Regions from separate parts of the Homo sapiens genome. Here all the other regions are linked to region 3. Evidence: fine-mapped expression QTL. A gene starts in region 3. Each other region holds a variant in brackets. All regions are shown on one strand. Distances are between the middles of the regions. Region 1 overlaps LHPP (phospholysine phosphohistidine inorganic pyrophosphate phosphatase). Region 2 overlaps LHPP (phospholysine phosphohistidine inorganic pyrophosphate phosphatase). Region 3 holds the start of LHPP (phospholysine phosphohistidine inorganic pyrophosphate phosphatase).

What was found. PIP is the estimated chance that this variant, and not a neighbour inherited with it, causes the effect.
Region 1: its variant is fine-mapped to the expression of LHPP in whole blood (INTERVAL, PIP 0.96).
Region 2: its variant is fine-mapped to the expression of LHPP in B cells (Fairfax 2012, PIP 0.95).

Annotation. Positions count from the first base shown.
Region 1 is chr10:124,492,508-124,502,245 of GRCh38, reverse strand. LHPP (phospholysine phosphohistidine inorganic pyrophosphate phosphatase) reads right to left here. Exons shown (of 7, transcript NM_022126.4): 4 at 5,222-5,285; 5 at 4,118-4,210. Among named protein-coding and RNA genes, the nearest start is that of LHPP, 36 kb to the right of the region's middle. RefSeq lists enhancers at 5,313-5,890, 5,891-6,468, 6,469-7,046. The variant T/C (reference allele first, on the strand shown) is at 5,197.
Region 2 is chr10:124,598,448-124,608,185 of GRCh38, reverse strand. The region is part of intron 6 of LHPP (phospholysine phosphohistidine inorganic pyrophosphate phosphatase); the gene reads right to left. Among named protein-coding and RNA genes, the nearest start is that of FAM53B-AS1, 100 kb to the left of the region's middle. RefSeq lists an enhancer at 1,345-2,289. The variant C/G (reference allele first, on the strand shown) is at 4,258.
Region 3 is chr10:124,457,227-124,466,964 of GRCh38, reverse strand. LHPP (phospholysine phosphohistidine inorganic pyrophosphate phosphatase) reads right to left here and starts at 5,142. Exons shown (of 7, transcript NM_022126.4): 1 at 4,978-5,142. The coding sequence starts at 5,102. RefSeq lists enhancers at 2,285-2,785, 2,786-3,286 and a silencer at 4,803-5,262.

The DNA.
Region 1 (9,738 bases), 35 kb before region 3:
AGAAAGCCATGAGTGGGATGACTGGTGGTGTCTGAATAAGCTCTCTAGGTTAGCTAACCGCCTTGTGCCAGTGTTGATTTCCCGGTTTTATCACTGCTCGATGATGATGGGGAAGCTGCTGAACGGTACACGTGAACATTTTGTACTATGTTTGCAACTTTTTGTGAGTGTCAAGTTACTTCAAAATGAAAAGTTGAAAACAATTTTAAAGTGGTTATTAGTTGATAATTATTAAAGCACAGTGATGGGTACCTAGGAGTTCCCTGAGCTGCCCTCTCTACTGACATAGATATTTCAAATGTTCTATGATGGAGGGCTAAAAAGAGAGGCTCAGAAAACATAAAAACGACACACAAGTCACGGAGCTTCTTCAGATTGGATTCCAACAGATCAACGGTAAAAGAGCATTTCTGAGACAGTCAAGGAAATTTAAATATGGGTTGCTATTAAATAATACTAACAAAAATCACTGTTAATTTTTTAGGTGGTTTTAAAATGTTTATTGTGGTAAAATACACATTACATAAAATTTATGACCGTGACCAGAGTATTCAATTCACTGGCATCGAGCACATTCAGAACGTCGTGCCACCATCATCACTGTCCAGTTCCAGAATATTTTTCTTTTTTTTTTTTTTTTTTTTAAGACAGAGTCTGGCTCTGTCGCCCAGGCTGGAGCACAGTTGCACGATCTCGGCTCACTGCAATCTCCACCTCCTGGGTTCAAGCAATTCTCCCACCTCAGCCTCCCGAGTGGCTAGGATTATAGGTGCACACCACCACGTCTGGCTAATGTTTGTATTTTTAGTGGAGACGGGGTTTCACCATGTTGGCCAGGCTGATCTCGAACTCCTGACCTCAAGTGATTCACCCTCCTCAGCCTCCCAAAGTGCTGTGGTTACAGGTGTGAGCTGCTGTGCCCGGCCCAGTTCCAGAATATTTGTATCATCCCAAAAGGAGACCTCGTACCCTGAAGCTGCACTCCCCATTCCCCTGCACCCGACCCCTGCCAACCACTAATCTCCTTTCCATCTCTATGGATTTGCCCATTCTAGACATTTGCTATACATGGAAGAATACAATATGTGTCCTTTTGTGTTTGGCTTCCTTCACTTAGCATAATGCTACCAAGGTTCATCTACACTGTAGCATGTGTCAGAACTTCATTCCTCTTTATGGCTGAATAATATTCCACTGTATGGACATACCACATTTGGTTATCCTTTCATCAGTTGATGGGCAGGTATCTTGGCTTTTTTTACCTTTTGGCTATTGTGTATGGAGCTGCTATGAATATCTGTGTACAAGTTTTTGTTTGAACACGTGTTTCAGTTCTTCTGGGTATAGACCTGGAAATGGGTTGCTGAGTCATACGGCAAATTCTATGTTTAACTTTGAGGAACCACCAAGTGGCTTTCCGTGGCAGCATTGTCATTTCACCTTCCCAGCAGCAATAGAGAAGGGTTCCAATTTCTCTACATCCTTGCCAACACTTGTTATTTTCTATTTTTTTTTTTAACTATACAGTCATCTTAGTGTGAAGTGGTATCTCACTGGAGTTTTGATCTGCATTTCCTGATGAATGATGATATTGAGTATCTTTTTGTATGCCTGTTGGCCATGTTAGGAGTTTTAATGTATTGTATTTACATCCAAAAATCGTGATTTTTAAATGTCATGCTACAACATGAAAGGATACAATTGAGATTTGCTTTAAAATATGAAGCAAAAAAATAAGTAAATTTATTATTATCATTACTATTACTATTACTTGGAAATAGAGTCTCACTCTGTCGCCCAGGCTGGAATGCAGTGGCACAATTTCGGCTCACTGCAACCTCCACCTCCTGGGCTCAAGCAATTCTCCTGCCTCAGCCTCCTGAGTAGCTGGGATTACAGGTGCATACCACCACACCCGGCTAATTTTTATATTTTAGTAGAGACGGGGTTTCACCATGTTGGCCAGGCTGGTCTTGAACTCCTGACCTCAGGTGATCCACCTGCCTCAGCCTCCCAAAGTGCTGGGATTACAGGCGTGGGCCACCACACCCAGCCAGTAAATTTTTTAAAAGGAAAAAAAAGAGGATAGAAGAAAGGAATGTGGCAAAATCTTAACCACTGAAGCTGGATGATGGATATAATGGGGTGTCTGTATCATTCTCTCTACTTTTCTGTATGTTTGAAATCTCTAATAAAAAAAGAAATTCTGCCCTATGAAGCAAGGTAGTAAAAAGCCAGGTTATTTATTGCTGCAGTTCTCACTCATTCAAAACACAAACCTTTCCTTCTCAACAGACTAATGTGACATTTCCCAGGTGTTTTCTGGGGACTCCAGACAGCCTGCATCTTCTGACATCTCTATGGATCTCAGGGCAGGTGCAGGTGCAGTGTCTAGATTTTGGCAGCTTTGGGCCATCTTTCTCAAAGCACCATGAGGCACCAGTGTTCTGGACCGAAATGCACACAGGGGAAACATGCACCAGGCTTGACACCTGAGGGACCCCCAACCCATGCTTCTGCTGCCCACTTCTGAGGAGGCAGCAGGACAGCCTGGGGCAGCTGTGGACTCTGTTTCTTTTTTCTTTTTTTTAAAGAAGGAGTCTCACTCTATCACCCAGGTGGAGTGCAGTGGCATGATCTCGGCTCGCTGCAACTTCTGCCTCCCAGGTTCAAGCAATTCTCATCCCTCAGCTTCCCAAGTAGCTGGGATTACCAGGCATGCACCACCTCGCCCAGCTAATTTTTTTTGTTTTTCTGTATTTTTAGTAGAGATGGGGTTTCATCACATTGGCCAGGCTGGTCTCAAACTCCTGACCTCAAGTGATCCACCTGCCTCAGCCTCCCAAAGTGTTGGGACTACAGGCGTCAGCCTCCATGCCGGCTGCCCACTATTCCTTACAATCTTTCAGAAAACCTGCTGGAGGGGGCTGTGTGTTGGTGGCTCATGCCTGTAATCCCAGCACTTTGGGAGGCCGAGGCAGGAGGACGGCTTGAGCTAGGAGTTTAAAACCAGCCTGGGCAACATGGCAAAACCCCATCTCTATGGAAAATACAAAAGTTAGCCGGGGCTGGGCATGGTGGCTCACACCTGTAATCCCAGCACTTTGAGAGGCCAAGGCGGGCAGATAACCTGAGGTCAGGAATTTGAGACCAGCCTGGCCAACATGGTGAAACCCTGTCTCTACTAAAAATAAAAAATTAGCTGGTGTGGTGGTGCACACCTGTAGTCCCAGCTCATCAGGAGGCTGAGGCAGAAGAATTGCTTGAACCCAGGAGGTGGAGGTTGCAGTGAGCCGAGACAGCGCCACTGCACTCCAGCCTGGGTGACAGAGTGAGACTCTGTCTCAAAAAAAAAAAAAAAAAGTTTGCCAGGCGTGGTGGCATATACCTGTAGTCCCAGCTACTCAGTTGGGGTTGGCGGGGGGGGGGCCTGGTTAGTAAGGGGGTTAAGGGGGCACTGAGATGGCAGGATCGCTTGAGCCTGGGAGGTCCAGGCTGCAGTGAGCCATGACTGTGCCACTACACTGCACTCTAGCCAGGGTGACAAATGGAGACATTGGCTCAAAAAAAAAAAAAAAAAAAAAAGAAAAAGAAAAGAAAACCCACTGGAGGACGAAGCCAGACTCACTTAGGGTTGGGGTAGGTGTAGACAATAAAATCATAACCGATTCTTTTTCCTTTCTAAAATTTGGAAGTTTGAAAGGCAATCTATCCCAAAATAGTCAAAATATAAAGGTCGCAAAATGAGTGACTTTATTATTTCCTCCATATTGTTGTAATCTTGCTGTTACACTGTCTTGCCAGTGAGATATATTAACACACTGATAGGACTTGTCAATTCTTATCCTTTCAGAGAAGCAGCAAAAACTCAGGAAAAGCCGCAGGCATTTCTGCTTCTTGCTTTCATACTGAAAGTAACTTCACGGTTGAAACTATTCAGTGGATTTCGTTTGCTGTCTTCCCCCTCCTTCCCAGCCAGGTCAGCTTTCACAGGGAGCCCACGCTTGGCTGCCTGGCCAACCCCACAGGCTGCCTGAGTCCTGTAATCCATTCCAAGCTCCAGGGCCTCCCTGACGGGGCTGCCTCCCCTGACCCACTTCACAAGGCGCCAACCTACCTGGTGGGCTTCCACTCCTATCGCTTGCAGGGCAGACTTGAAAAACTCAGGAGAAGGCTTCCCCACCACCTCGGCTTTGATGCCACAGGCATACTGGGAAAAGAGAGAGGGACATGGCATAAGTTTGGGATCAAGGAACAGGTGTATGCCCAGCCACGGAAACACTGTCCCAAATGTGCCCCCAAGAGTCAAGGGCCTTGAAGAAGCAGGATGCTGTGGGCCTGAGAACTCATCTCACAGGCAGGAGCCTCACAACTCCAGAAAGGGCTGCCCGGGTCACTCAGGTCCCCTAGCACCAGGCACCCTGCCATCCACTCAAAGGCCTACCCACAGCAGAAGGCATCCAAGAGCTGGCAAAACTACAGGGCTCCCAAGGGCCAGCAGAGCAGTGCTCTGCTCACTCGCCTGCAATTCCGTCCTCTCATCCCTTCTCCCCCTCTTCTCCCCTGCCCACTCGCAGCTCATCACAGGGCTCCATCTGCTCGTCTGCCTCTCCCTCCCACCTGACGGCAGGCAGGCAGGAGGGGCTGCAGCTGTGAGGATGGGACGGGATGTGAGGCTGACCTGGGGCAGCTAATGGGACCTGGGCCAGAGTGGACCCAGGGGAGCCCCACCCGGAGGCCTGGCCACAGATGGCCTTGGAAACTGAAGGGGAAGTCAGGAAGGAGGCCAGTGAGGACCCGTCAAGCTTGAGGTGCTGCAGATGCCCAGGGTCAGGAATGAGAGCGGTGGTCAGCACTGATACAGAAGCCACAAGCCCGAGAGGAGTGTGGCAGAGAGCAGCTGGGAGAGCGGCAGGGTCCACGGCGGGCAGGGGGGGCTGCGCCCACTGGAGGATGGGGAGGATGGGGAGGATGGGGAGGATGGGGAGGATGGGGAGGATGGGAAGGATGGGAAGGGAGAGATGGGGAGGGAGGAGGACAGCTGAGGGCCTGAGGGCCCGAGGGCCCGGCCAGGGGAGCCCAGAATAGGAAGGCAGCCTTTGTGGAAGCCCAAAAGGCCATTTGTACGTTAATTAAGCACAGCCTCTTCTCAACAAAGACCCAAAAAGTCCCAGGTGCCCTGAGGTCTGAAGAGAG[T/C]TTGGGACAGAACCAGGGCTGGTACCTCAAGCGCCTTCATGTAGGGACCAACGTCCAGCATCAGGCCAGAGGTCTCCTTGTAGTAACGCCTAGGAGAGAGCAGAACGGAGCACGGGATGCTGAGCACGGGGAGCTGACCGCAGGATGCTAAGTATCGGGAGCTGAGCACCGGGCCTGTCCCGCTGGCTGCAGAGCCAAGCCGCGGCTGAGGGGCAGTCCAGGCGCTACGCTGAGAATGACCGCAGGGGACCAGCACCACAGAGCCGGGCGGCAGGCCGCCACACCCAGTGGGGCGAGCGCAGCAGCCAGCAGCTCCAGGGATGCCACAGGTCGCACAGAACGCAACCCTGCTGTCAGACTCGTGGGGACCCTGCTGCAATGATTAACAGGGGACCCAGAAGGCAGACGGTTTCAGTTGCTAACACAGAGAATGACAAGTGACCTGTGTCCTGGGAAGGAACAGCAGGTCCACGGGGTATGTGGCGAACCCCTAATTGCTAATAATTAACCCCTAATTGCTGGCTGAAGAAGAGAACTCCATTAGTTCCACAGCACCCTGCCGCATCCCGTTAGCCGGAGGTCAAGCGAGGTGCCAGGTTTCATGGGCGCCAGATGCTTTTATGAGAAGACAACTGTTCCTTCCCGTCTCATGGAGGTGGAGACAGGCTCTGCACGAGGGAGCATTCCTCTCTCAAAATGGCCTCACTGCTCTTTGAGCCCAGGGCTGGCTTGGTGGCTGGCTGCAGCCCGGCCAGGCTCACCCTACGATCGCGTCACACTGAGCCTCAAGGCACTCACAGTCCAGACACATGGTGGGCCAGACCTGGCTCTGGCTGAACTAAGCCAATTGACTACAATGAGGCGAGAAAGTGGTTTAACCTGCGCTGCTCTGAAGACGCAGTTCATTGAAAGCCAAGAATACACAAGGGGGCTTGATTCTTGGAACCACTAAAATGTTTTGCCATCCACCATCACATCAGTTTCCCTCTCCTCCTGCCATGCCCTTACGATATGGGAGACGTGGAGAAAGCACGTATGCAGAAAACGAGAGGGAAGAAGAGCGCATGCTGACTTGAGCATTCAGATCTCACTGCCTTCTAACGGTGTGACTTTGGGTTGCTTACGCCTGTGGGCCTCAGTTTCCTAATCTGTAAAATGGGCAAAACGAACAACAAACAATACCTACCTCACGGATTGCTGTGAAGCTTGAACAAAATAACGCATGCAAAGTTATTAACTCGGTACCTTCCATGCAGAAGCTGCCCAGATGAGACAGGAGAATATTATTATAAATAACCTTTCACCCAGGCTGACACAAGCAATAAGATGAGCTGGGGGAAGGAAAAAATGAACACAGCCCTGTTCAATTTGGGGGCTGAAATGTGTTCTGTGACCACCTGGGGTGTGAGAACTGAGCTCCTCGGGAGCTGCCCTGGGGCTGTGCCCTTCCTCCAGCTCCGCCACTCCTGGGCACCCTGCCTGTCCCTTTCTGCCCCACCTGATGCCTTGAAGCTGTAGCAGGCACCCAGCCACACCTGTGAGATGAACCGCTCACCCCTGTGCGTCCTCCACTGCCTGCCTCAGATGCTTCCCGGCTAAACTTACAAGCTGGGCTGCAGGTACGGGCTTCAGCCAAACCTGGGCCTTGCCAGGGCTGGTCCCCCTGCCACTCCTGTTAGGCAGCTTTGGAGCTTGGAGTCTGTTTGTTGAAGGTGTGGGCATCTCCTGTCATGACGTGGGCTTGGGACTCTCCACGTGAACCCCAGGCCTGTTCCACAGCCTCTGAGGCTCTGTGCTCTGGGGTCACGGCACAGGGATACAGGCTGGCTGGGATGCTGTGAATGCTCACAGAGGGGGGACCTGAAAATGCCCTCCCTTTTAGAGTGACCCCCAAAAACAGGCTTAGAAATCTCTAAGTTCATGTCTTAAACGCAGACTTCAAATGTATATTTTGCATTTACATGGCCTAAAAAAGTACTGCTTTTTCTTTTTCCCAGTTGGACAATCAGCTACTTTGGTCTGATGGTTTCCTTAGTGGGGTCCAGAGTTCTCAGGAAACAGTGAGGGGACACCGGGTCCTGGGGCCTGCACTGGCTGGTGCTGCAAATGGCCCAGGTTACCTTGGTCCCCCTTGGCATTAACGATCCCAGATGCTCCACAGCCCTTTGCAGGACTCAGGGATACTCCCAGCCCCAGCCTGCTCCACAGGGACTCACAGTCTGGTGGGGAAGCAAAGAAGCCCACAGACAAACTTTAAAGGGCAGGACCCAGGGGAGGGGCAGTCTGCTTGAACAGGGCGGGGGACAGGCTGGGTTCAGGGAGGCAGCAGAGGCATGGAAAGCTGAGACCTGAGCTAAAAGGAAGTGAAGGGGAGGTCCGGGTCCAGGGAGCACCTTGGAATCCACTGAGCACCCTGCTGAGGACCAGGGTGGCCACGCCACCACAGGCAAGGCCCTCTGCAGGCCCTCAAAGGCCATGACCCTCGTCCCCTCCTGCCCACCTGTGCCAGGAGAAGGAGGGCATCGAGGTGGGTAGGGAGGGCCTCCCTAATGAAGTGATGTGTGGAAGTAAGCCAGGACGGAGGAAAGAATATACCCCACACAGGAAATGCTTACCCAGCAACAAAAGAAAACCTGAAATCAACAAAACTACTCCATTGCGACAGGTACAGCTCTGTTTGGAGCTGAGGATTCTGGGGGCTTCTGGGCCCAGACCCCTGTCCCTCAGCTACCCTGGGGCCGGCTGGAGGAGCTAGAGGTTGGGTGGACGGGAGCAAGCACCTCCCATCATCTGGCAAAACCTCCTAAGGGGACCCACGCGGCGCCACTTCCTCTGGCCTCAAGTTCCCTGCAGCCTCTTCGAAAGCGAAAGAAACCTGGATTTTCTTATGTTTAAATTTAGTCCTGGATGGGATTTTAAAAAAACTGAACGTGCAACTGAAAATACACAATCAAAACCTTGTCTTTGCATGCTAATCTTTAGAGTCCAAGGAGAACACGAACTTCCAGAAATCAAAATGAGAAACTTTAACGTTTATTTTTTAAAAAACTGAATCTGGGCTTGATTTTATAGTGCCCAGAATTTTTCTTTATTCCTTATTCATTCAGAAAAACAAAAAGGCATCTTGAGGCCAACTGTTACCTGGAAACATTTTTTAGAGACAGAGCAAATATAAGCACTTAAAATTTTTTTTTAATATAAAGGCCCGGTAATCTCCACACACTAGAGATGCGACGTATTTCTCCTGTTACTGGTTACTGGTTTAACCCAGCCAACGGCAGCCCCACTTAGGACGTGAATGTTCTAGCCACAAAGAGGAACCCGTGGATGCTGGAAAGAAAGGGGGAAGCCCGGGAGGAGGAGTCAGATGCGATTTTATGCTTTATTCTTCTGCCGTTTCAGATTATTCAGCACAGCCTCCCTGCAAATGACCACTTGACCTTTCCCAGAAGAGCCGTTAACCTTCCATAGTCTGTCGGGTAAACAGCTTAATTTTCTGAGAGCGGCATGACAGAAGAAATTACAAAGCCAATTCCCACTCTGGGGTCCAAACAGATGCCAAATGTAAATCACTCCATTTCCAGGAGAGGGACAGTCTGCCCCGGCGCCTCCACCCGCTGCTCCTGCCTCCTTGGTGGGCACCGCTCAGCCTGTGCCCCTGTGTCCCGCAGTGCAGGATGGACCTCACCAGCAGTGACCCACAGCCGAGGACGGCATGGTGATGGCAGCTCTCGGGGGGTCCTCAGGCTGTCCTGAGAAGCTGGGACCTAGTCCCTAAAACCGCCGGTTCCTTTCTCTGGTTTTTAAACACCCAGAACCCCCATCAGCAGAGACGCCACTAATCTCCTACTTTAAAAAAACCCTTGTCTACTATGACATTTGCTGCGGTATTACAAAGCTGAAAGCGACTGCTTCCGGTTTTTTTTTTTCTTTTTCAACAATATACCTGTTCTGACTATTATTATCCATGATCTGGAATAGTGGTTTTTAATAATTATGAGACAACTTTTTTTCTTTTCTTTTTTGTAGAGACGGAATCTTACTATGCTGCCCAGGCTGGTCTCGAACCTCTGAGCTCAAGCCATCCTCTCATCTCAGCCTCCCAAAGTGCTGGGATTATAGGCGTGTGCCACGAAGCTCAGCATGAGACATCTTTAAAGAAAAAAGTGTTAACATTAACGAATTACAGCAGAGCTTCTTCATTATGCTTGTTCTCTAGTGAGGTGTTGGTGACTCAAAGGCCTAATGGGTCAGCCCGGGTAAATGAGTTAAGAGGCCAGGTTCTGTGGCTTGCTCCATAGCAGCGACCTAAATTGCAATGGGTGTAAGTTTAAAAAGGGACTACAAGGGTTAATTTAATATGTCAACTTGGCTGGGCCACGGTGCCCAGATATGTGGTCAAACATTATTCTGGATGTTTCTGTGAAGGTGTTTTTGGATGAGATTAACATTTAAATCGGTGAACTAGGAGGAGAGTACATTCCCTTCCGCAATGTGGGTGGACCACATCCAACCAGTTGCAGGCTTTACAAGAACAAAGAC
Region 2 (9,738 bases), 140 kb before region 3:
TGGATCAGGAGGGTCAGAAAGGCTCCAAGCAGGACCCTAGGGGGCATACCAACAGCCTGGAGTCCCAGCAGACCTGGCACTAGGGAGGGTGCCTGCGGGAAGGACCAGTAGGCTCACTCCTACGCCGAGGCTCTGCCCCCTCCTGCCCTCTGCCCCTGCAACGCTTCTATTCCCTGGTCTCACCTCTGCCTGGCCTGTGTGCATGGGCCTGCATCAGCCCTGCCAGGCTGCCCTCAGCTCCCACTAGGGTCTGGGGAGATGAGCTCCAAAGCACTGCTCGCAGCCGCCACGTGTGCACCCAGCCCACGCTTACAAGGAGTCGGGGGCTGAGGCCGCGGCCCGGGTCTGACGTCCTCTCTGGTACCGCAGCCAGTTCCCATCTGATTTCCAACTTTTCTCCCCACAACAGTGAGAGGTTTGGGTTCCTTGTTGCCCGAAGCGGAACAAAAATTCTTCCAGCAAACACCGCCCATGATTCATCATCCGAGCCCCCGGGGGACTGGCCCCCAGGACCCCCTCCTTGGACACCTTCCCCAGGTGCCCTGGGGCCAGGCTTATTGTCCAGGCAAAAGCAACCAGCCCCGAGAGGGAACAAGAGGTCTCCCCATAGAAGATGACGCTTTGTAATGAGAATCCGGCCAGCCCCACTCCGCACGTGTACCTAGCCGAATGGCGTCCGTGGCTAATTATGTTTAATTACATATCATTTAAATTCAAGAATCCACTAAAAGAAAGGATTGCATTAGCACCCGGCCGGTGTTTGCCCACACGCAGCGGAAATCGTGGACTTTTATGTCTTAATTACGTGACGCTGCTGTGGGCTGTGTCTCCCAGGGAGCTGGGGTAGGCAGGAGGGGACCTGTTCCTGGCCTGGTGGCCCCAAAGCCCCTGAAGCAGCTCTGCTTTGTCCAATGGCCTGGGCAGGAGGAGTCCCTGCCCCACACTGGCCAGTGCCCTGTGACCTGTGGACCTCAGAGATGTCACGGTACAAAAGCTGAACCAAGAAACCCAGCAAAGGTGTGTCCTCGGCAGTGGGTACAGAGCGGAGAGGGTGAAGCAGGAGGGGCCGCAGACCATCCTGCCCGGAGTGGCCCTACTGGGACAGAGCTGGAGGAGGAGGAAGAGACAGACAGAGAGACACGGCCACACACGGAGGGAGGGAGGGCAGGGACAGGAAGAACCATGAGACAGGCAGAAACGGAAAAAGAGGATGAAGCAGAGAAAAGAGGGCAGAGAGAGGGCAGGCGAGTAGAGACAGACACATGGAGGGAGGGGACAGGCATGGGACACAGGAACAGGGGCAGGGGCCTGTAACAGGCAGGGAAGGGCTGGGGCTGCCCCCACGGTTCTGTGTCCTGGCCATGTGGGCCTGCGTTAAGCCCCTCCGCCCTTCCCTGGCTACGGGCCTGGCTGACGGCTCCCCGTGGGGGTCACAGCGCTGCTCCTCCCCCTGCCCCAGGCCCAGCCCAGGCCCCCAGACAGCTGAGCACCCTGCTCTGTCCCCAAAAAAGTGCATGGCCCAGGGCCGGTCTCTTCACCTGCCCGAGCCTCAGTTTCCTCATCTGTAAGGTAGCATAGGGCTTGGCTCTGGGGGCCACTCTGAAACGAAACAAAAGAGGCAAGACTGCACACGAAGTTGGCGTTTCCCCTGCACCTGGGGACCCTGCAGCTCACCCTGGCGCTGGCCCTGCCCCCTCCCACCTCCACCATCTGCCCTCCAGGGTTCACAGTCCAGTTCCACACTCACAGTTGTCAGCACTGCTGGGAAAGAAAGAAAAGGGCCTGGAGTCTGAGGGCACTGATGGGAGAGGGAGTGGGGCAGGACTGAGCGGGGCAGGGACGCTTCCGGAAACAGGGACGTTAAGGCTGAGCACTGCTCCCGTCCATCGTCCTTGCTGCTGTCCCCCCGAGAATGGTGTGGAGACACCAGGCCTTTGCTGGGTGGCTTCTTCACTAAGCCAGAGTGCCTGGCCCTCGGGGCCTGGCTGGGAGGTGGGAGCAGTGAGTGATTTCCCCAGGCGCCTGCGGGGCGGCTGCGGGTTCTCCTCTCCTCTCCTGGGGGCAGCCTCCCTCGGGCTGCATTTGGGCGTCTCTGGCTGAGGACCTGCTTCTGATGTGGGGTGGGCCCTCCAGGTACCTCCCCCATCCTTGCGCAGGAGCCTGCAGGGTGGGTCCTGCTGCCCGGGTTTCGGAGGTAGAAGCGGAGGCACACAGCTGGGAGGCATGTGGCTGCAGGACCAGGAGGCTGGCCTTAACCACCGGAACCCACAGGGTGACCCGGGCCCCTTGAAGGCAGGAGGTCTTCTGCTGAAGCCTGTTCCCTTCCCCTTCCCCCTCCCCCTCCACTGGCTCTCCCTCCTGCCTGGCCCCCTCTCCTCTTTTGCAGCCAGAGTGGCTTCCCTAAATGCTCAGCTGCTCCCGCCTCCCCTGTGTAAACTGCTGTGGCTCCCTATTGCCCACATCATAGCCTGGCTCCTCAGCATGGCAGATGAGTCCATCCTGACTGGGCCCCACCTGCGGACCTCCCTCGCCTCGCCAGCCACTCAGTGTCTGGGCTGCTGCTCTTCAGACATCCCAGCTCTCCCTGCCATTGCCCATGCTGTGCCCTGGAATGCTCTTGAAACCTGCTCCACCTGCAAACTCCTGTTCACGTTTCAAGACCCCACTCACCTGTCCCCATCTCCCACTGTATGCTCCTTCCACAGGGCGAGTTGCTCTCTCTTCTGAGCATGCAGAATGTGCCCTCCAACCACCCCATGCCATCAAAGCTGGGGGCTGCTCTGCCACTTCATCTGCAGGTGCCAGTGTTGACTTCGCTTCCTGGAGGGACAGGCCAGGTTTCCTGCCCTCGGTGGTCCCCCCCACAGGCCTGACCCAGAGCAGGCACCCAGGAAGTGCCCACCAAATGAATAAACAAAGGCCCCCAGCTGGGCAGGCCAGTGCCTGTCATCAGTGATTCCTCCCCCTCATGCTCTGTCAGCCGAATGCAGGGAACGGGTGAGTGAGAGGCAGAAAACAAGGCGGTTCTGTGCCTGGGGCCTGGCCAGCTTCACAGGGACAGTCTTTGTACCAATCGAAGGAAAATGGTGGCCAGGCCCCAGCAAAAGAGCCCCATGAGGCCAGTCTCCCTGCCGCCTCCTCCAGGGCACACGCAGGCCAGCACCGCCTCCTGGGGAACACTGACCAAGGGAGACGGGTGCGGCCTCTCCCCGAGGGGCTCTTGAGGGACCTGAGCTGCCCGGGACTCCCAGTCGGTGGCCCACCCGCCTCCTCTCTACCCTGCAGGGGCAGGGGAAGGGGCAGGGTGGGGCAGAGACTCTCACAACTGGAGGCCGCAACAGCTGCCTACCCAGGGAGGGGCAGGTATCCCTGTCCCCATTTGCTTTGGAAAGGCAGTGGCTGGGAGCCAGGTGCAGGGGGCGGCTGCCCAGTGAATTCAGGGATCTGGGCACTGGCATCAGAGGGTGACGCCAGCTCGGCTGTGCCGACAGACTTGCAGGACAAGGACAGAGGGTGATTCATGAGGTGGAGGTAGTGAGGCCGGGCAAGGGGCATCCTTCCATCAGAACCCCAGGAGCCCAAGACCCCCGGGGGCCTGGGGGGTTATTTCTAGAAGGGTGTTCACCAGAGCCTGACCCTGGCAAGTGCCTGGAGGATGCAGCTGGGAGGTCTGCCTCCACCTGCACACCCGCAGCTTCTCTGAAGGCTGCTTATCAGATGGTCTGCACCGGTACATCACACACACTAGGCCTGTGCCCATGGGGTTCCCTGCTGTCCACGTGCTGGCCCAGCACGGCCACCCTCAGGACAGCAGCTTGCTGGGGCCCAGTGAGGTGGGCAGAAGGCCCAGAACATCCCACATCCAGCCCGTGACCTGGCCTGAGCTGGGTCCCTGGCAGGTGCCCGAGGGTCGGTGGCCTCCTTACGGGGTAGCTGGGTGGCGGAGTGGAGATGGCCACAGATCTCAGGCAGGCTGCTCCGACCTCCGTCCCCTGGGTTCTGGAAGCAGGTCGGGGAATGACATGCCCAGACCCATGTACCTCTGGGAAGGTGCCATGTCGTGCTGCTTACAAAGAAACCCGAGCAGGAGCTCCTTCCCATGGAGCCTGTGCATCCAGCCAAGGCCTCCCAAGCCCCTCTTCTCCCAGGACCTGGGGGTCAAGAGGCACACAAAGGACTCTGACCTGGTCCCTGCCTGCAAAGAGCTCACATGGCACCTGAGCCCAGCACTCCAGCCCCAGGCCCGGGCCTTAGCAG[C/G]TGCCTGGGGGACACAGGCTCCAGCCTCAGCTACCTGTTCTCACTCAGGGATTGCTCAGCCCTCAGGCCCGTGTCCTCCCAGGCCAGCTCTGCCCACAGGCCTGGGGACTGCTGAGTCAACCTGGAGCCCCGGAGCCCAGCGTGGGGACCCTCCAGCCCAGGGCACCTCCTGCCATTGAAGCCAGCTGGGTCCTGGCACGAAGGGTGGCCTGGAGGGACCGGAGGGTCCAGGGCCACATCAGTGCCGAGGCGAGGGCCGCGAGGAGGCTCCCAGCTTGGAGACCCGCCCTCCCCTTGCCCAACCTGCTCACACATACAGGACCTTCTCGGGCGGCTTTGAAGTCACTTGGCAGAAAAAAAAAATCCAAACAAAAACCCAGGACTGAAGGAGTCCTCATCCTGGGCCTCTCTGGGTCCCTCACCTCTCTGGCCTGGGGACCAGAGCAGGGATGGGGACACACTTCCCCTGGCTGGGACCTCCCTTGGAGGTGCCAAGCTCCCTTTCCCACTGGCCCAGCTGAGAGCAGGAGCAGTGGCCCTGTCAGGTGCTTGTCCCCCATCCGTTTGGCCATCTGCTCCTCTGTAACAAGGAGGGGTGGGGAGGGAGGAGGTGACCCCTCCCCCTGAGCCCCTACACATGGAATGTGTGTGTGGATGAGAAAGCTGTGCACCCGGGCTGGGCCTGCCCAGCCCAAACCACCCGTGCCCGCCTTCCTCCCACGTGGGGTGAGCCAGACACCCACAGAGGCTGGGCATGAGCGCACTGCAGGTGTCCAGCTAGGCTGCCGCCCGCAGGCAGCACTACATACAAAGAGCCAGGGCAATGGTGAGGGGCCTGGATTCCCCAACTCTGTCCTGCCCTGGCCTGGCCCAGCCCCAGTACCCCTCCCAGGGACTGCAGCTGGCCACACCCCACCCTGCCCTGTCCCTCCCACCTGTCCAGGAGGCCTGACAAGGGTGTCTCAGAGCTAAGAGTGAGGTGGGGTCCTGTGCCCCCCAACCAAAAGAGACATCTTCCCTGTGTGCACATGTGTGGGCGGTTGCAACCCAGAAATAGGAGAGGGGCGCACTGCGTCTCCTGCCCCTCGGCCTTGGATCCTTACAGTCTCCTGGTGGTCTGGCCCCCATCTGGATCTGGATGTGTGAAGAGCTGGGGTGGGGCAGGGCTGGGCTAACTGAACCCCAATTTTCTTCCATTGGGGGGCAGGGCTGGGCTAACTGAACCCCCTTTCCTTCCAGTGGGTGGTGCCCAGGGCCCAGAGCCTGCCCCGGCTGACCTGTCCTCTGGCTAGTAAGGACAAAAGTCTCTCCTCGCAGAAGGAGGCACTCACTGAGCCAGTCCCCCAGGGCTCTGAGCCCTAGTGGGTAAACCGAGGCACAGGAAGGGATCTGCCCAAGGTCTCACACACCCCCAGGAGCCACAGACTCACTGGAAATAGGCCTGCCTGCTGCCCACAACCCAGAGCTCTCCACCAGCCAGTGGGCAGGCCCCGGGATGCAGGTGAGGCTCCTCTAGCTAGCAGACTTGTGGCCTCCAGGACATCAGCGATACCACAATGGGCCCACACCTCTGCAGTAAGCCAGCTGTGGGTGGCGTCTCTATGTGCTCTGCACAGCGCGCCATGGGGTGCGCACCATGATCTGCTTCTCTGAGATGAGGAGAGAGACCCCCAGAGATGAACAGCCATGCTCAAAGTCACAGCCAGAAGTGGCAGAGCTGGGGTTTAAACCTGGTTCGTCTCCCTCGCACAAGAATCGAAATCTGGGCTCACGTCAGCAGATCCTCCCTGGGCACGTGGGGCATAGCCTGCATCTGGGTGTCTCTGGTGGGCTGGTTGACTCTGGCTAGACCCGGAGGCCTGTAGGCAGGGGTCTCCACTCCCACCCACCCCCGGATGGAGCTGGGGCACTACGAAGAGGCAGTGCAGCGGAGGACGGGGCACAGCACACATGGAGGTCAACGGGACCTGGAGAAGGAGTGGTGCATGCTGCGAGTGCACGCAGGGCCTGGTAGCCCACGGCCTCCCCATGGCTGGTGCTCCACGTGGGGCCACCCAGATGCCTGCATTCCTTGGGATCTGCAGCCTGGTGGTCAACAGGACCCGGGGAGCCAGGCCTGAGGCAAGGGCGTGTGCCAGCCAGGCAGAGAGCAGTGGGGCCTGGCGGGGAAGGGTTTTTGCCGTGAACCTTGGCACCCACCAGTCTCTGTCCACAGGGAGGAAACGGGGCTTATTTACGGCTGGGTTTAGCCAGGTGGCACTCTGTCAACCAGAACCGACACCATGGCGCCAGCTATTTCCTGCGCGGTTCTCACTGCCCCACTGACTGCGGGCACCGCAGGGGCTGAGAACAGAGGTGGGACGCACTGAGAGGGACTGGTGGTGACGCTTGGCCGCCCACCAGCGGGTTGGTGGTCTCCAGAGACTCCCTCACGTGGCAAATGCGGTACCTTGAACCCCCAATCCTGGCTGGAGTGTGGGGCAAGTGCTCACCCGCCTGTCTCAGGCCCTCACCCAATTCACGTACGTAAGGCCCCCCGGTCAAGCGCACATAGAACTTTTCAAACCTAGGAGCTGGAAACCTGGCTTCTTGAGAAAATCTGAAAGATCCCACAATATGGGCCGACAAACCATGGGCAGCACTGCGCTGCAGCGTGTGACGCGGCAGCTGCTTCCTTGAAAGGGGCAAGGCGGGCCCAGCCTGCCACACTCCCACTATTCTCTAATGTCTCCCTGTTCCCACGCCAGGCACACGTCACTCTAGTGCACTTCCCCCTACCCCTGGGGGTGTCTCTGAATCTGCTGCCCTGCCCTAAAGCTTTAGCTCCCTGGGCCTCATTCCCTAAGAACAAGTCACCTCCTCCAGGAAGTCTTCCCTGAAACCTTCCTCCCTCCAACCCTTGCCTCCTCAGTTAGGTGCCCACTCTGCACTCCACGGTAACTGTGTGGACCCCATCAAAGCACCCATCAATCTGCCACAATTGTTTGGTTACCTGTGTGCTGCCACCTCCACACTGAGATCCCTGAGATCAGGGACATTCCGTTAGTGGCCTCATGGCCTTGGCTCCTAATGAGCACACAAGCAGGCAGCCTCCTTCCTACTGACCACTGGGGACTGTGGGTTATCGCCTGGCATTGGCTTCCTGTGAGCCTCGGCCCTCCTAGAAATCTGGGCTGGGGGGCAGTCCCTCCCCATGAGTGGAGGAATGATGGGCAGACAGGCAGGCCCCTGGGGCTCAGGGCCTTGGCGCCCTGGCCTGAGCTCACCCTCCTGGTCCTCCCTAGAGTCCAGCTCCATCCAGCACGAGGGGCCACATGCACTTCACCTCCTCCGGGGAGGCCCCACTGCGTGAGACCCCGGGCACCTAGGTTGCAGCACCCAGATACAGAGAATTTCCTTCTGGAGACCAACTGCCCTGGATGGAACAACCTCTCCCCACATCCAGACTGAGAGGTGTGGGCATGCTGGCCACCCCACCCAGGCCAACACCCAGATCGAGCCAGCCCTGTTTCTGGCCAGTGAAGCTGAGCCCTAAGAGGCGAGCCCCCCACCCTGCCCCAGTCGCCTGCAGCCCTCTGTGCCTTTGGCGAAGCAGGCACCAGTGCCCCAGGGCAGGGGCCTAGGAAGAGCTGCAGGTGCCAGTAACAGAAACAAAAGCTCACAGAAGCCGGGGCTGCGCCAAACCAGCAACCCAGGATCCTGGAGGTCTGACAGGGGACCCATCACTGCGAGGGGCCGCGCTACCAACAAGGCCAGACCCTGTCTCCCTAATGTGGCCCACAGGGGGGCCTTGGAGCTGGCCTCTGCTTACCCACCAGCTGCCCCCTCTCCCCGCTCCCGAGCACTCATGTCCCCAACTGCCCCTGCCTCACTTGGTGCCTTTCTCTGCCACCTCCTCTGCCTGGAACACCCTCTCACTCCCTCACTCCGCAAAAGCCCCAACTCAGAGATCCCTGCCCTGTGGTCTTCAGGACCTATCCTACCCCCAAAATAAATGCATGATCAGTGAATGAAGACCTGGAAGGTCTCTGGGACACAGGCCTGGGGGACCCAGTTGGGACCTTCCAGAATGGGGGCTGACAGTGCCATGGGACGAGCACCCCCAGAGTGGATGGCTCTGTCCACAGAGCACGACACTCGGTTCAAGCCACAGTGCAGACGCAGCTCCTGGGCACTCCAAGTCAGGCCCCAAGCAGTGGGCCAGCACATTCCCCAGGACACCCACAGCATGTCCAGACAGCAAAAGTGGCTTCTCTTTTTCTCCTTGTTTTGTACAGAAAGCTTTGAGAGCCAGGCCTCCCGAATTCCAGTGACACGTGGGACTTGGGCCTCCCATAGCCAGGCTGAGGAACTGAGAGGGGAGCGGGGAGGGCTGGCAGCTGCCTGGCAGGGAGTACGGAACCCCTGGCTGCTCCACCTGCAAGCCTGGAGGCGGGACTGGCAGAGGGGGCCTGGGCTTTGGCCATGGGAAGCGCTGGCCCTGAGCTCTGTGTGACCTTGGGCAAATGGCCACTCAGAGCCTCCCTTCTCTCATCCTGAAAGTGCAGCTGAAAAGAGCCCCTCCTGGGGCTACGATGGAGATTCACCGAGATGGTGCAGGTCGTGGGCATGGCAGGTGCTCGCCTGGGTGGATGGGTGGATAGATGGATGGGAATGGACAAACAGACAGTTGGAAGGATGATGCATGCACAGGGATGGACAGGAGGATGGATGGCTGGGGACGGATGGGTGGATGGATGGGTGGGTGGGATGAGTGGATGGGTGAGTGGACAGATGGGCAATGAATGGATGGATGGACATGGATGGATGGATGGGAATGGACAGAGAAGGGTGGACGGCAGGCACTGCATCAGGGTGGATGAGTGGATGGATGGACAGGGATGGATGGATGGGGATGGACAGGTGGATGGATGGATGGATGGATGGATGGGCAGAGATGGATAGATGGAGATGGAAGGACAGAGATGGATAGATGGAGATGGATGGACGGGGATGGACAGAAAAGGGTGGATGGCAGGTGCTGCATCAGGGTGGATGGGTGGACGAATGGACAGGGATGGATAGGGGGATGGACAGGTGGACAGATGGATGGACAGAGATGGATGGATGGGGATGGACAGAGAAGGGTGGGTAGCAGGCGCTGCATCAGGGTGGATGAATGGGCAGGGATGGACAGGGGGATGGATGGATGGGGATGAACAGGTGTACGGGTAGACAGATGGACACGTGGATGGCAGGAACTGCATCAGGGTGGACAGGTGGATAGGGATGGATGGATGGATGGATGGATGGACGGACGGATGGGTGGATGGACCGCTCCCAGCAATTCCTCGTGCTGGCCCTGGCCTCATGGGAACTCATGCTGACCTGACTGTCTGGAGAGCAGGCCCCACCTCAGGAGATGGTGGGCAGGTCCGATGCCCAAGCACCTCAGGGGGGCTTTCCCCATGGGGTTATCAATAGAACCTCAAGGCCACGCCC
Region 3 (9,738 bases):
TTTTGTAGAGATGGGGGTCTCGCTGTGTTGCCCAGGCTGGTCTCAATCCTTCTACCTCCAGCCTCCCAAAGTGCTGGGATTACAGGTATGAGCCACTGTGCCCAGACGTTAATATTTTGAATTTTAATATTCAATTTAATATTTGAATTGTAATATTTTGAATAGAAAACACATTCACATAGTTTAAAAATCTTAAAAATGATATGCAGGCTGGGCGCGGTGGCTCACACCTGTAATCCCAGCACTTTGGGAGTCCAAGGTGGGCAGATCACATGAGGTCAGGAGTTCGAAACCAGCCTGGCCAATGTGGCAAAACCCCATCTCTACTAAAAATACAAAAATTAGCCAGGCATGGTGGCAGGTGCCTGTAATCTCAGCTACTCGGGAGGCTGAGGCAGGATAATCACTTGAACCCAGGAGGCAGAGGTTACAGTAAGCCAAAATTGCACCACTGCCCTCCAATCTGGGTGACAGAGCAACACTCTGTTTCAAAAACAAAAACAAAAACGTTGGTATACAAAGTTATACAGTGAAGAGTCTTTCTCCTACCCTGTCTCCAACCACACAGTGGCCCCCACTTTCCTTATCCTCCAGCTCTTCCCAGACTCTGAAGCAGCCTGCGTCCTTCCAGTGTCTTTATGCAAACACAGCAGGAGAAATACATTCTTGCATTTCTGCATTTTCTATACCAGAAACAGCGCACCGTGCATCCTGCTGTGTGCTTGCTGTCTCCACTAGTAATATGTCTATAGACAAGGTACTCATTCCTTCTTACACTGCATGTTATTCTGCTGTATAAACAGACAGACCCTAAAACTCCCCTACTGATGGATATCTGAGCTGCTTCCAGTCTTTTGCTATTTAAAAGGCATTGCCAGGAATGACCTTGTACTTGTGTCCTTTCTCACACGAGATAGGACAAATTCTCAGAAGCGCAACCACTGGTAGATAATGTCAAATGTATCTTCTGCAAGCAATGTGTGGCAGGGTCTGTTTCCACAAACTCTCACAGAGAAAGTGTTCTCAAACTTTTGGATTTTGGCCAATTTTGTCAAATTGATGAAACAGGGCAGCTTGATATAGTTTTAATTTGCATTTCTCAGGCTGGGCGCAGTGGCTCACGCCTGTGATCCCAGCACCTTGGGAGGCCAAGGTGGGTGAATCACTTGAAGCCAGGAGTTCGGGACCAGCCTGGCCATCATGGTAAAATCCTGCCTCTACTAAAAATACCAAAAATTAGCTGGGCACGGTGGCATATGCCTGTAGTCCCAGCTGCTCAGGAGGCTGAGGCACAAGAGTGGCTTGAACCCAGGAGGCAGAGGCTGCAGTGAGCCGAGATCACACACCTCTTATTTGAGTAAGGCGGAGCCTCTCTCACTTCCTCTTCCATGACCTGTTTGCATCTTTTGCTCATATTGCTATTGGGCTGCTTGTTCGTTGTTTTTGCTTTCTAGATTTCAAGGCCTGGATGTAAAGGCCTTCTCTCCAAGGTTTCAAAGGAAATCTCCCTTGCTTTCATTTGACTTGTATGTCTCACTTTTTACATTTGTATTTCTTTAAAACATATAAATCAGACCACATGATATGCCTATCTAGAGTCTTCACTGACTTCCTGCCACTCAGGATAAAGTCCGGACACCTCTCCGTGCCCCTCAAGTTCCTGCCTGGTGTACCCACTCCCCCACCCCACGCCCTCGAACTCGCCAAGTGCTCTCTTCCTGAGGTCTTTGCAGCTACCATTCCTTCTGCCTGGAATGCGCTTCCTCCGCCTCTTCCTGCAGACAGTTCCCTCTTATCCCTCCGGGTCTGTCCAGTGCCTTCTCCTCAGAGCTGTCCCGACCCCCTCTCTAGCACAGGCCACCCTCGTCCATCACACTCTCAGTACCCTCCCGTCTTCACACCCCTTAGGCCTACCTGTGATGATGCGCTTTACCCGTGTGCCCACCTGTGAGGATGATTTACCTGTGTGCCTGCAGCTTTACTGTCCCTCTCCCCTCCACACATCAGACCCTAATACTCCCCTACTGATGGGTATCTGAGCTGTTTCCAGTCTTTTGCTATTTAAAAGGTACTGCCAGGAATGACCTTGTACTCATGTCATTTCTCACGCATGAGACAAGGACAAATTCTCAGAAGTGGAACCACTGGTAGATAATGTCAAATGTATCTTCCGCAAGCAATGAGTGGCAGGGTCTCCCATGAGGCCTTGCCTGCCCCAGTCACAGCATTGAGCTCTGGCTTCCTGCTCCCCAGATGAGGCCCACTTCACCCCAAAACACTGCCCAGAGCCCTCTGCTGGATTCCCACCAGTGCCACTCACAGAATGCTCTCATCTGTGACTGAGCTAGTCTAAAGCTTTGGAGTAATGGAGAATAAGGTCAGGAATGCACTTAACCCTGAACTTCAGCCAACACTGAGAGCAGACCCAGGACCCAGCGGAGTGTCCTAGGTCTGGGCTGCCCTTTGTGCTTGCTCCTGGAAGCCAAGTCTCCCTGTTCCCAGTTCCCAGCCTCCCAAACACCTCCGGCTTCACTATGCGGGACCGTTTGGGTCCCTATTATCTCAGCAGCTCCCAGACATCAGACATGCAGATTGGTAGAATGGGGTCTCTAAGAAGGACCAAGAGACTCAGTTAATTGCCACCTACAGATAGGTATATTGAGTCCCAGTGACATCAGGCTACCAAGCCAGGGTGCCTCAGCTAGTGACTCCGGGAGGCCAAGTCCTGGCAGTTAGCCCTTCCCGGCTGCCTATCAACACATGGCAGTGCTGACCTGGGATGCCAACAGGAGGCCTTACAAAGCCCAGGTCCAGTGGTGCCAACCATGCTACTGAAAGTGTCCTTCTGGCTGGCCACAGTGGCTCACACCTCTAATCCCAGAACTCTGGGAGCTGAGGCAGGCAGATCACTTCAGCCCAGGAGTTCAAGACCGGCCTGGGCAACATGGCAAAACCCCATCTCTACAAAAAACACAAAAAAATTAGCTGGGCATGGTGGCACGTGCCTGTAGTTCCAGCTACTTGGGAGGCTGAGGTGGGAGGATCTCTTGAGCCCTTGAGGTAGAGGTTGCAGTGAGATTGAACCACTGCACTCCAGCCTGGGTGGCAAAGTAAGACCTTGTCTCAAAAAAAAAAAAAAAAAAAGAAAAAAAAATTAGGCCAGGTGTGGTGGCTCATGCCTGTAATCCTAGCACTTTGGGAGACCAAGGCAGGAGGACTGCCTGAGCCAAGGAGTTCAAGACCACCCTGGCAACATAATGAGACCTTGTCTCAAAAAAAAAAATTATACAAAGAAAAGTGTCAGCCAGGTGCGGTGGCTCACGCCTGTAATCCCAGCACTTTAGAAGGCCCAGGCAGGTGGATCAGTTGAGGTCAGGAGTTCGAGACCAGCCTAGCCAGTATGGTGAAACCCCATGTCTACCAAAAATACAAAAATTAGCTGGGCGTGGTGGCGGGTGCCTGTAATCCCAGATACTTGGGAGGCTGAGGCAGGAGAATCACTTGAACCTGGGAGGCAGAGGTTGCAGTGAGCCCAGATGGCGCCACTGCACTCCGGCCTGGGCAACAAGAGCAAAACTGTCTCAAAAAAAAAAAAGTGTCCTCATGGTCAAGTCTTGGCTGGCACGATGTTCTCTTCCTCCTCCTCTCACCTAAACCAATGCAGTCCAACAGAATTATAATGAGAGCCACAAAGGTAATTTAAAGTTTTCTAATAAGCACATTAACAAAAGTTAAAAAAAAAAGGTATACTTAATTTCAAATATTTTAACCTAAAACAGTATATTAAAAATATTATCAACTGGGCATGTGGCTCACGCCTATAATCCCAGCACTTTGGGAGGCCGAGGCAGGTGGATCACCTGAGGTCAGGAGTTAGAGACCAGCCTGCCCAACATGGTGAAACCCCGTCTCTACTAAAAATACAAAAAATTAGCCGGGTGTGGTGGCACATGCCTGTAATTCCAGCTATTCAGGAGGCTGAGGCAGGAGAATCGCTTGAACCTGGGAGGCGGCGGTTGCAGTCAGCAGAGATTGCACCACTGCATTCCAGCCTGGGCAACAAGAGCAAAACTCCGTCTCAAACAAAACAAATAAAAAAAGTAACTGGGCATGATGGCGGGTGCCTGTAATCCCAGCTACTCGGGAGCCTGAAGGGGGAGAATCACTTGCACCCGGGAGGCGGAGGTTGCAGTGAGCCGAGATCGTGCCATTGCACTCCAGCCTGGGCGACAGAGCAAGACTCCATCTGAAAAGAACAAAACAAAACAAACAAAAAGTATATCATTTCAACAGGCAAACAACATAACCCATTTTCATGTTTTTATTTTACATTTTACTCACGAAGTCTGGTGTTTTTGGGGGTTTTGTTTATGAGACCGTCTCGCTCTGCAGTCCAGGCTAGAGTACAGTGGGGTGATCACAGCTCACTGTAGCCTTGACCTCCTGGGCTCAAGCGATCCTCCTGCCTCAGCCTCCCAAGTGGCTGGGCCTACAGGCGTGCACCACCACACCCGGCTAATTTTTAAATTTTTGGCAGAGACGGGGTCTCCCTATGTTGCCCAGGGTGGTCTCCAACCCCCTAGCCTCAAGCGATCCTCCCTCCTCTGCCTCTGCAAGTGCTAGAATCACAGATGCGAGCCACCGCGCCCGGCTAAGTCTTGTTAATCGGTATGCATTTTACGCTTACAGCACATCTCAATTCAGACTGGCCGCAGGTCAAGCGCTCAGCAGCGCACGTACCAGGTGGCCGCCCTGTCTGACCGCGCAGCCCTAACCAGCAGAGTCCTGGTGCTCGCCGGGGGCAACAGTGGGGTCGTCCGTGGTCAGCACTGTGCGCGCACCGGGGTGGGAAGGGGGAGACCGAGGCGGGGCCTGCGCCGCGGCCCCGCCCCCTGCCGCCCCGCCCCCTGCCGGCAGCCAGGGAGCGGGCTGAGCTTAGAGCTCGGCGGCCCCAGCGGCGTCCCGGGGCCCACTCACCTGGCCACCGCCTCCACCGAGCCGGCGATGGCCGTGCCGCCGCCCGCGCCGCTGTCGTACAGCACGCCCGAGATGTCAAGCAGCACCCCGCGCACGCCAGCCAGCCGCTTGCCCCACGGTGCCATGGCGCCCGGCCCTGCTCCTCAGCTCCGCGTCCCAACCGACGCCGGCGCCGGCGCCGCGGCCGCGCAGGGGCGCCTGGGAACTGTAGTCCCGCGGGCGGGGCAGGGCAAGAAGACCGGGTGCAAACCCGGAACTGGGGCGCGGCCTGGGCACCCCGGCGTCACTCGCCCCTGAAACGGTGTCCTTTTCGGAAGCTTTCTTCCCAGGAGATCAGCGGACAAAGAGCAGGAAAAGCAGAAAACAAGTCCCTAAGAAAGGTCAAAGGCAAATTGAGACAAGAAGGCACCTGTAGCCAGGGGCGGTGGTTCACGCCTGCAATCCCAGCACTTTGGGAGGCAGAAGCGGGCGGACAGCTTGTGCCCAGGAGTTCTAGACCAACCTAGTCAACATAGTGAGACCCTGTCTCTATTAAAGAAAGAAAGAAAAAGTACAATACAAAATTGAGGCCGGGCGTAGTGGCTTATGCCTGTAATCCCAGCACTTTGGGAGGCTGAGGCGGGTGGATCGCTTGAGATCAGGAGTTCGAGACCAGCCTGGTCAACATGGTGAAACCCCTGTCTCTACTAAAAATACAAAAATCACCTAGGTGTGGTGGCGCATGCCTGTAGTCCCAGCTACTCGGTAGGCTGAGGCGGAAGAACCGCTTGAACCTGGGAGGCGGAGGTTGCAGTGAGCCGAGATTGCACCACTGCACTCCAGCCGGGGCGACAGAGCAAGACTTTGTCTTAAAAAAAAAAAAAATTATATGCAGATAACAGCCCTGCATAGATGAGGATGCATAGGACCTGGGCTGAGAAGAAAACGGGACTATCACAATGCGTTAAACCCAGGAGGTTTTTGGATAAGCTATAAAATACCACTCGATGCTACATTATTTTTGCAATAAATACACATTGATATTAAAAGGGAGGAGTTTCCTCAATGGCCCCTCGGAACCTTTCAAGTTATTAAATAGAAACGAGAACACTTTACTTCTGGTCCAACATAGCTTTGAGCTTTCAAAGAAGAGAGGATCATATTATTTCACCATTTCTTTTCAGGCTCTTGATTCACAGAAAGGATGAGGAATTCGTTGAAATGTTATGGGGTTCAATGAATTGTGTATATTTTGTTGACATGCTTACTAGGGGAGCTGTTTACAAGTGAAATAAAATACAGTTCCTACCCTTTGGGATTTCCACTAATGGGGTTGGGGAGTAGTATACCTTATATAAGGGTTCTTAGTCGCAGACAATAGACACCACTCCAGCTAGAGGGGTTTTGTTTACATGAGGTGAAGGAGCTTACAGATGACGGGTCTAAGTCCTACACAGCCAGGAGCCATGCAGCCACGAGAAACACTTAATTTTACTACTCCATTGGGACCACTGCCCCATCACTTAGTGCAGCCCCCAGCATAGCTGCCCCCAAAAGAACAAAACATATCCACCACTGTGCCCTCCACCTGTGGCCACCCACTCACTTTCACTGTGTCTGGCTTGGTGGAACCTAGCCCACGCTGCAAAGGAGTCTGGGAAATGCAGTTTTTAGTGTTCCAGGGGCTGAGTGAGTCAGTTTGGAGAATCTGCTAGGAACATCATGAACCGTACACGTATTGAGACCCTACTCTGTGCAGTGGGCACAAAAAAGTTCTAGGGTGTGATCCTTGCCTTCCAGGATCAAGACTGGGCAGAGAACAATGGAAGACCTTCACGACTGCTGACCAAATGTGTGCCAAGTGGCAATGAGTGACACAGACACAGTCAAGAGGATGACCTCTGCAGGCCTAGGAGGGCAGCTGTGGCTTCTGGGCAGGGGCAGCCTGAAATGGACCTTGGAGAATGGCTGGGCTTTAGCTTCATGCCAAGGAGGAGGAAAAGGGGTGCTTCTGCCAGTGGTGTGAGCCTACCCATAGTTGTTTCTTTTCAGTCAGCTCTGTGGGTACTCTTGGGCAAGTCCCTTTTCATTTCTACGACTACAGTAGACAGAATAGTGCCCCCTTGAGATGTCCACCTCCCAATCCCCACAACCTCTAAATATATTACCTGACATGGCAAAAGGGACTTAGATCTTGCAGAGCCTATGCTCCTGTAGGGAGATTATCCTGGATGGTCCAGGTGGGCCCAGTATAATGACATGAGTCCTCATAAGGGAAAGAGGGAAGCAGGAGAGAGTCAGAGTCAGAGAAGGAGGTGTGACAGCAGAAGCAGAGGTCAGAGAGAGAGGTGTGAAGATACCGTGCTACTGGCCTTGAATACAAAGGGGCCATGAGCCAAGAAATGCAGGTGGCCTCTGGAAGCTAAAAAAGGCAAAGAATTGGATTCTCCCCTAGAGCCTCCAGAAGGAATGCAGCCCTGCTGGTACTTCAAGTTTAGGACTTCTTACCTCCAGAACTATAATAATAAATCTGTTGTTTTAAGCCACTAAGTATATGGTAATTTCTTGCAGTAGTGACAAGAAACAAATACAGGGATCCAGGTCCCTCACCTGAAAAATGTGGCAAGTCTCTAAGTGTGGGCCACTGATAGGCTAAAACTTGATCTGAAAATTCCAGGCTTTTCTTGGGATGCAATGAGTGTAGGGCATTGTCTATGTTAGGGTTGCATTTGGCTACATGTAACAGAAACCCAGCCATAGTTGCCCAACCAAATCAGATTTTACTTTTCCTCATATATCAAGAAGCCAAGAGGGAGGAAATCCTGGATGGGACAACAGCTCCCAGGACCATCAGGCTGCCTCCTGCTTTCTGCTCCACCACTCTCTCAGCATGTGGCCTGCTCCTCACGCTAGCAAGATTCCTGCTCCACCCGAGGCATCATGACTGCATTTCAGGCAGGAAGGAGGGGAAAGAAAAGAAAAAAGGGCATGTGACAGCTGAGTCTGACCCTTTATACCCAGAAAGCAAAAGCTTTCCCAGAACCCTGATCCAATGGACTCTCATTTGCATCTTTTGGGCCAGAGCTAGCCAGGTGGCACATGAACACCATAGTGTGCCAGGAAGCATACACCACTGACTGAGCTTTCAGCCTGTTATAGCAAATCTACAACTCATGTCTGAATTTCAGCTCAACTATGAATCTATCAACCATCTATTGCTATACTAGACATATGCCTCATCCTTTCAGATTTGCTTGTCATAGTCAGGACTCTTCGGCTGCCAGTGACAGAAGCCAAATTTCAAATGGCTTCAATTTAAAGGAATTTATTGGCTCGCACAACCAGATAGTCTAGCAATGGACAGCGTCAGGCATGGCTGGTTATCAGCTCTGGGCTCACAGAGTCTCCGGTACACCACCTGGTGAGGATCCTTTTCCTCAACTTGGTCTGGCTGTTCCAGAAAGAACTCTGATTGGCTCTCTTGGGTCAGTGTCCCCCATTGTCTGTGTTCCAATGGAAGTGATACTGTGATGTTCCAGCCTGACTGGTGCCCTTACCAGGGCTGGAGGTGGGACACTTGCCTATAGTCCCACCATGACCAGAAGGAAAGGGAGAGGACAAGCCCTCCAGCAAAAAGCAGGGCGCATTAGCCGGACGTGGCAGCACATACGTGAAGTCCCAGCTACTCCAAAGGCTGGGGCAAGAAGATCACTTGAAGCTGGGCGTGGTGGCTCACGCCTGTAATCCCAGCACTTTGGGAGGCTGAGGCGGGTGGATCACGAGGTCAGAAGATCAAGACCAGCCTGACCAACATGGTGAAACCCCCATCTCCACTAAAAATACAAAAATTAGTCAGGCGTGGTGGCACACGCCTGTAATCCCAGCTGCTCAGGAGTCTGAGGCAGGAGAATCGCTTGAACCCGGGAGGCGGAGGTTGCACTGAGCCAAGATCACGCCACTGCACTCCAGCCTGGGCGACAGAGCGAGACTCCATCTCAAAAAAAAAAAAGAAGATCACTTGAACCTAGGAGTTGGAGGCTATAGTGTACATGACTGCAACTGCAACTGTGAATGGCCACTGTATCCTAGCCTAGGCAATATAGCAAGACTTCTCTAAAAAAAAAAAAAGAGAGAGAAAAGAAAGCAAAAAAGCAGGGCACTGTGAAAGAGGAATAAGGAAGCAACATGGTATAGGCAAAAGTAGCAGGTGCCCACCAGTCACCAAGACCTTTCTTATTATCAAATCCCATCTCCCTGGAAAGTGAGACCAGACCAAGTGAGGGCCATATGAGCCAAAGAATCTTCTGTTTTATTGAGATGGGCTATAGTGGAAAAAAAAATCAGAGCACCATTAATAACAGAAATGCTTCTCAGGCCGGGCACAGTGGCTCACACCTTGGGAGGCCAAGGCGGGCGGATTACCTGAGGTCAGGAGTTCGAGACCAGTCTGGCCAACACAGGGAAACATCGTCTCTACTAAAAATGTAAAAATTAGCTGGGCGTGGCGGCACAGGCCTATTGTCCCAGCTACTCGGGAGGTTGAGGCAGGAGAATCACTTCAACCTGGGAGGCAGAGGTTGCAGTGAGCCAAGATTGCGCCACTGTGCTCCAGCCTGGGCAACAGAGCGAGACTCTGTCTCAAAGAAAGAAAGAAAGAGAGAGAGAGAGAGAGGAAGGGAGGGAGGGAGGGAGAGAGAGAGAGAGAGAGAGAGAGAGAGAGAGGGAGAGAGAGAAAGAAAGAAAAAGAAAGAAAGAAAGAAAGAAAGAAAGAAAGAAAGAAAG